Homo sapiens: one gene and its partner. The protein of the gene in region 1 interacts with the protein of each later gene in a pairwise test. Each region holds a gene or a part of one and is shown on either strand. Other genes may lie near its edges.

Region 1 (3,755 bases):
TAAAAAGGTAGATGAATATAATTTATCTTTCTAATATATAAACTAAATTTTAATTCCTTATACATATGTGCTTTTGCTGTTTTCATGATTGGTTTTTGGCCTCAGATAGAAAAAGTGTTTCCTATTTTTGCAGTTATGTTCTCAATAAATATGTGGTGTCTTGACTCTCTGTGTGAGACTGATACCCAGTGGAGCCTACCTTTTTGTTTATTCTATGGAAATCGTTGTCGTCATTTATGAGAAATACACTGGACTTATAAAAAACATTTAAAAATCTTAGGCATTAATTTCTCAGTTGAGGTTCAAAAAGGCTGGAATACAGGACCTCTAAGTTTTCCCATATCTTTGAATTGTTTTACTCTATCTATTTAGCTTTCAAAGTGATCGTTCCATGAGGTGCTGTGCACGGATCTCTGAGTCCTTGCTCAACGCATGAACAGCCCACAGATTAGCACGGTCTCATGTTGTGGCCATTGTTGTGGGGAAACTTGTTTGTGTTCAAGTTTTTATTTTAACTAACCTTCAAAAGGTCAGCTGAAGGAAATGGAATCGACTGCACCCTATAATATCAACAATGTGTTCTGCATTTTTCCATGCCATGATGCAAGTGGGAAATCCAAGTCAACAAAGAAATATTTTAAGACTTTTGACCTCTGGCCTTATCACTGTTCCTGATCTCAGTGTATCTTGGTGCAACCTTTTGTGGTACTAATTTTTCAGTGTGCATGAAGATTTTTTTAAACATCTAGGATTTTATCCTAACTAGGGAGTAAGGCAAACTTTCACAGATGTAAGTACAAAAATGTTAATCATTCCAAATTACACTGAGTCCACTGGACTAAATTGCAAATGAAAATTGAAAATAACCTAATGTATGATATGTATACATTATGATATATCAAATCAATAAAATACTAAGCAGTCATAAGGGGATGACCTGCTTTCTTTGATGGGGAAAGAGACCTACAATTATGGAGAAAACAGGTTGCAAGCCATCATGTATAATGAACCATTTATGTACATATATTGGTTTATAGATGCGCAGAGAAGTCTGGAGAGATGTATGCCAAAATATTAAAAATGGTGATTTCAGAGTGGTGAGACTGATATAGTTTGTTTTGTTTTTTATACCTTTCTCTATATTTGATTTTCTAAAATGAATTTTCATTAGCTTGATAAACCACCACAACAAAATGGATCATTTCTTTTCTTTCTGTACTCTACAATCCTTGCAAAAGTCTCAGAATCTGAGACTCATAAATGACTCTCAAGGCAATAGATAGACATTGCCATTATTATTCTTAATGAGAGCATGCAGTAGGTTAGGGCTCAGGTCTTCCTCACCTGCAGCCTTCCTATGGCTTTGCAAAGTCCTCCTTTTCTTCACACTTGCAGATGAATCCTTTGCACCTCCTAATATCTACTCCATTTAATTTTACTGATGATAAAGGCAGACAGTTTAGACACTCACAAAGTCACACTACACAGACAACCTTTTACACACTGGAGTTTTCTAGACACTCTATTACATTGTAAGATCAGAAAACATTTCCTGTCCACAGTTACCACATAGCTTTCTGGTTAGTGCCATATGCTGCTAGGTCAGCTCTCTCTGTGACCTCCTTCTTTTATTTCTAACCTTCCTCACAGTATTTTCATCACTAAATATTTAGCTCTGTGAAAGTCCTGAAGTATCGGGGGAACCAGCCCCCAATATTTCAACGTAGGTTCTTTTCTATTCTCCCTAAGTGTCGGCCAGTCTAAGAAATAAAGGGAAAGAGTACAAAACAGAGAAATTTTAAAGCTGGGTGTCCAGGGGAGACCCATTTTAATGCAGCAGAGAAGAAGGGGACACTGCATATCAGAGTCCACTCCCAAGCCCTCAGGTCCCCTGCTTGGGCATTTTATAACACAGATCCAAGGTGATTACCTGAAACATATTTCAGTGAAGCTGGGGACATTGGTAAGAGAGGGAATGTAATAACATATTAGCAATTTGGCCCTAGGCAAGCTATTAAATAAGAAGCTACAGTTTATTTTCTCACAAAATAGTGATCATGTCGCCTACCGCAAAGGGATTGCAAATGACAAATAAGATAATGCATGTACCATGCTTAGCAAAATGTTTGGCTCATAGATAATACCTACATGGTAACTTTTTCTGTGTCAGTGAAGACAAGCAGGCTAACACTTGTATCATAATAGTAATTCTTGCTTTGCTTGCAAAGGGTTGTATCTTGAAGCATGAATTGGTTGATGTGACCTCTTCAGAGAAACCTTTCCTGTACCCAATGGAAAGCAGCAGCTGTGTCTCTCCCTGTCATATGACTCTGTTTCATTTTCATCATATTTTCTCCTCTTACTGAAATTAACTTCATGAGGGCAGAAACATTGCCAGTAGTATTTATCACTGTATTACCAATGCTTAGGACCACGCATGGAACATAATAAGTGCTCAGTATATGCTTGTTGAATGAATGAAGGTTCCACTTATTCTCCTAAAGTCTCAGCTCCAATATCTGGTTCTCCCCTTTTTGCTGTCAGCTCTACAGTGCCCTAATGATAGTCCAATCATCATAATTATCACATGCATCACTGTGTCTGTTTACTTCTTTATTTTCCCCACTAGGCTCTGAGTTGTGTTGAAGGCATCAACCGAGTGTCTAGCACACTGTCTGACATATGAGAGAATTCAAATATTTGTTGAACAACTAGAATTTAATAGTCCATACTTATCTGTATGATAATACATTTTTACAAGGCCCTATGAGGAGATAGCTTCAGGGGTCACTTGACCTAAGCCTTAAGCCTGAGGGTGAATGAAATGTTGTTTGCCTTTCAGTGACATGTGTAGGGAGGTGGGTGAGACCTGATCATGTGCAGGGGCTTAACAAATATTTATTTTTGCCTCTCCACTTGGTTTATTTTCATTTTTTAGCTTCTCTTTTTTTCTCTTCTTTTTTTTTTTTTTTTTGAGATCAAGTCTCGCTCTGTAACCCGGCTGGAGTGCAGTGGTGCGATCTTGGCTCACTGCAACCTCCGCCTCCTGGGTTCAAGCAATTCTCCTGCCTCAGCCTCCTGAGTAGCTGGGACTACAGGCGCATGCCACCACACCCAGCTAATTAGTTTTGTATTTTTAGTAGAGACAGAGTTTCACCATGTTGGCCAGGATGGTCTCAATCTCTTGACCTAGTGATCTGCCCGCCTCGGCCTCCCAGAGTGCTGGGAATACAGGTGTGAGCCACCACGCCTGGCCCATTTTTTAGCATCTCTTAGTGACCTTTGCTTTAGATGAATATGCAAGATGGGCTGATGCACCACAGAACAGTTGAGAATAAATATCAATTTTCAAAGAGAATCCCAATATAGGCTGGGTGCAGTGGCTCATGCCTGTAATCCCAGCACTTTGGGAGGCTGAGGTGGGTGGATCACTGGAGCCCAGGAGCTCGAAATCAGCCTGGGCAACATAGCGAGACCCCATGTCTACAAAAAATTTAAACATTAACCAGGCATGGTAGTGCGCACCTGTAGTCCCAGATACTCAGGGGGCCTGAGACAGGAGAATCTCTTGAACCCAGAAGGTTGAGGTTGCAGTGAGCCATGATCGCACCACTGCACTCCAGCCTAGGAGCTGGAGTGAGACCCTGTCTAAAAAAAAAAAAAAGAAAGAAAGGAAGGAAGAGAATCCCATATTGACCATATACCCTGAGATCCTGGCCAAGGTCTGTCCTTGCACCTTCTTGTTTTTTCCCTTC
Region 2 (3,755 bases), on another chromosome or scaffold:
CACGCAGCTCAAAGGAATAAGTATATAATTTGTGTCCAGGGAAGGCAGGGTAGAGTCCTATAGATGTTTTAGATAATATTGAAAAGTCATAAAGTGTTGGATTCACATGATTTTAGCACTGTTTTCTGGACTATAAAAATCCATTCATTGAATATGCATCTACTTACTGCAAAATAAATAAATATCATCTCTTAGTAAAATTATCCCTCTATGGATACTTCCCTCTCAAGCAGTAAGCTTTAAAAAGTAATGCAGAAGTAAAGCAAAAGAATATAAAATATGATGTTATTTATGCAGGGCCCTCAAGAAATCATATCATTCAGTAAGTGATTTCTCCAGATAGTGAAGCTTCATCTTTAAATACAGAAATGACTTTTTAAAACTTTATTGTCTTGCACGCAAATCTTTCTAAAATGCTTTACTACATACTTCACCAAACATAATCCATTCCCCAATGATTCAGACTAAGTATTGTAAGCATCCATTTCTATACTGCACTTCAGGAGACTCTCAGAGGCTGTTGCACTGTATAGAGTGTCATTTGCCCCTATACTATTAATAAATAGTACCATATTGCTATGCTTGTATAGTTCATCTTTTAAATACAGTTTCCTGTCTTTTTTCTCTCAATTTCCATCAACTGTCACTTTTCCCCCTCCAATAATAGGGTTTATAGGAGGCTAAACTCTTACCTGCCTCAGGGACTTTGCACATGTTTTCCCCTAAATACATTATATTCTTTCCCTCACTTTTTGCCTGGCCAACTCCAACCTTCAGGGCTTCTCTTCCCTGACCACCCTCAATGCAACCAACTCCAGTGTAAACTAATAGCATAGTTTTAGAGATCCTATTACTTACCTACGTAGTGATTTGTGTAATTTTGCAATTCAATTTTTCTTTGTATTTATTTGTGTAGTACGTAACTCCCCAAACAGACTGAAAAGTTCAAGAAGATAGTGACCACGCCTGCTTTATTTGCCATAGCACAGTGCCTAGTACATAGCATATCTGTACAATAAATAAACAGAATTCTCCTGAGAGAGTAGACTTGTAAAATTTTTGAGATTAGATTTGATACATGGGCCACAATGAAGAGAGTGCTTTCAAAGCATCTTCCACTTGAGAAAAAGAGCTCCAATACTGAACATATACATAATAAAATAAACATAACTAAGACAACTTTACCAAAACACATGCACAAAACATCTTGGGAAAATGGCAAAAACAGAAAAGCACAGAACATGTCCTTTTGCTACAGCTTATGTGTCACTCTTTGTTTTCCGGCTAACTGTGGCTCCCCCCCATCCATTCCTTGGCTTCCCTGTTGAAATCACATTGTTACAATTCAAAAAGCCCTTAGGAACTAAAATAAATAATCAAGAAATGAGTAGCAATGAATTGAGGTGCATTAGATATATTGGGCTAGTGATTACAGAGGCTGAGTAGACATTATACAAGACGTGAACCCTTACGGCAGGAAATTACAGCATTAAAACACAGAATTTAGCCAAGCAGCACCTGCCATTTATTTATTTATTTTTAACATGGTCCAAATGTGAATGTTTGTCTCAGTCACAAAATGAGTCACCCTCATTGAATCTGGCACAGATTAAGCTGGAAAACAAAAGCAATTACATAAACTACACACTTTAATAAGGCAGATACAAAGGTTCTCTGGATTATGGTACAAAGCACAATTTAGCCACAGAATAAAGCTTGATGCTCGACAAGAGAACTGACATCAGCACCCTTGCTAATCACAGCACAAAAGCGTCTCTATGTTTTGTCAGAGCACAAAACGGGCCCACATAAATCAGTCTTTGTTATCTGAAAATATCTGAGATTCTTAAAGTTTGTCCTATTTTTATCCTTGCTGCCTTGGTAGCTCCAGAGAAAGCCGTACACTGCCTTGCCAATCCTGCAGAGCAGGAGCAGACAAAAAGGACAGGCTTTCTAGAAACCTTCAAAACCAAATACTCAAAGTAATTTTAAAAGAAATTCACACAAAAAATCATTTTAACGACTAGACTTCCATTACGAGCAGGTAATGAAGAAGCTGAAATTTGCAAGATGTCTGCATAGTTGAGAAGGACTATGTAAAAACTTATTTTGTAGCCATTTCTTATATGCAATAGTCACTCCAATTTTGAGTTGAACAAATAATTTGTTAACAAGAAGTCAACAGTTAAGTCTGGATTTTGGGGTAACTTAAAAGTACCAAATTCTGAAGCCAATTCCCTATGCTCAGTGACTGCCCCCTGTGCCTACAGGATAAAACCCAAACTCTGGCAGGGTACACAGGACCCTCCAATCAACTCCCGCCCCATCTCCACCCCTAAATCTCTCCAGCGTCACTTCTTGCCCCTCTGCCTTCCAACCACATTGGAAATACTTGTAGTTTCCCAAACACTCTGCTCTGTCCTGCCTCTCACCCCTTGGCACAAAATCTACCCCCTAGATTTAGCTCAGCCCTCTTCGGGGCACCATCCGAGTTGGCTCTGAGCTCTCCATTTCCACCTTTTTCCTAAATCATTTGACATCTGTGCATTTGAATGTACTGAGGGCTGGAGCCATTTTAACCTTTCTTCTTTCCTTTCCCATTGCCTAGCGCCAAGGAGGTGCTCAGTCAATGTCTGCTAAATACGCAATACAAAATGTTTGAGGCAAGGATTAAAAATACAGAAGTTCTCATACTATTTATGCATTGCAGGGATAGTGATATAACTGCGATCTGCCCAGCCCATTCAAGAATTGGTCAGGCAAGCATAGAGGTGTGTAAACAAATTAATTTGTTTTTAAAACTCTACAGACATAAGAGAGATGTTTTTAAACATCATTTTAAAAGAACTATTCTTTTAAACATTTCCTGTATTTAGCAAATTGGATATGCTCACCTGTAGAACTGTCACACTGAAGCTAGGTCTTAAGGCAGGCTTATCACACACCCTAGAGTATGGGTATGTACATACTGGCAAGAAAGTACAGATGGGAGTCCCACTATTTGGTGGGAAGGAAACATTTTTTAACCTGGATTAACCCCAAGCCATTAATGGCTGTAATATTACTAACAAATTCACAAATTTTGCCTATATGGCTGTAACGTTACTAACAAATTCACAAATTTTGCCTAATTAACCTAACTAGCAAATGGCTTCAGCTTTAAAGAAAAACATTGTAACTGCTGTACACCCTGTTTTGTGAGTTCTCTGTGGTATAAATGACAGCTCACATGCCTGGTGTGATGCTTGCCAAAATTCCCTCATCTTTTCCCTGTACCTTTACTGGAAGAGCTAATTATTGAGGAAGTGGCCAATATATGGGCAGGCAAGAGAGAAGATCAGAGAAGAGGTCGGGGGTAGTCCATGGGTTCTCTGCCCTGAATGCACATTAGAAATATCCGGAGAGCTTTGCTTAAAAAAAAAAAAAGCTTGGGGTTTCACCTTAAGCCAACTAAATTGTAGTGTATGGGGGTGGGGTGAAGATTGGAATAGGCAGGTTTAAACACTCAACAGATGATTCTAATGTGCCACCATGATTAAGAACCATAGATCCAATCAATAGGATTATATTGCTCTTTAAAGTAAAATTTCAAAAACAAAACAAAACAAAACAAACACAGGTCCTTTCAAGCTTACGTCTCATTCTTCATCTTCTTATATTAATATCTTCTGCTCATGCCAATGCTGTCTCTATCTTCCTATTTTTGTTCACAATATTTACCACTAGCAAATATCTTTCAAACCCAATTCATTCTT

Evidence for each region. Proteins that work in one complex are often made in the same cells at the same time.
Region 2: the proteins of SH2D1B (region 1) and GAB1 interact in binary tests that used the Homo sapiens proteins (3 or more experiments, as listed by UniProt).

The regions. Positions count from the first base shown.
Region 1 is NC_000001.11:162,405,458-162,409,212, forward strand, and holds part of SH2D1B (SH2 domain-containing protein 1B), read right to left. Parts: intron 1-3,755. UniProt on the Homo sapiens protein: Cytoplasmic adapter regulating receptors of the signaling lymphocytic activation molecule (SLAM) family such as CD84, SLAMF1, LY9 and CD244. In SLAM signaling seems to cooperate with SH2D1A/SAP.
Region 2 is NC_000004.12:143,409,721-143,413,475, reverse strand, and holds part of GAB1 (GRB2-associated-binding protein 1), read right to left. Parts: intron 1-3,755. UniProt on the Homo sapiens protein: Adapter protein that plays a role in intracellular signaling cascades triggered by activated receptor-type kinases. Plays a role in FGFR1 signaling. Probably involved in signaling by the epidermal growth factor receptor (EGFR) and the insulin receptor (INSR).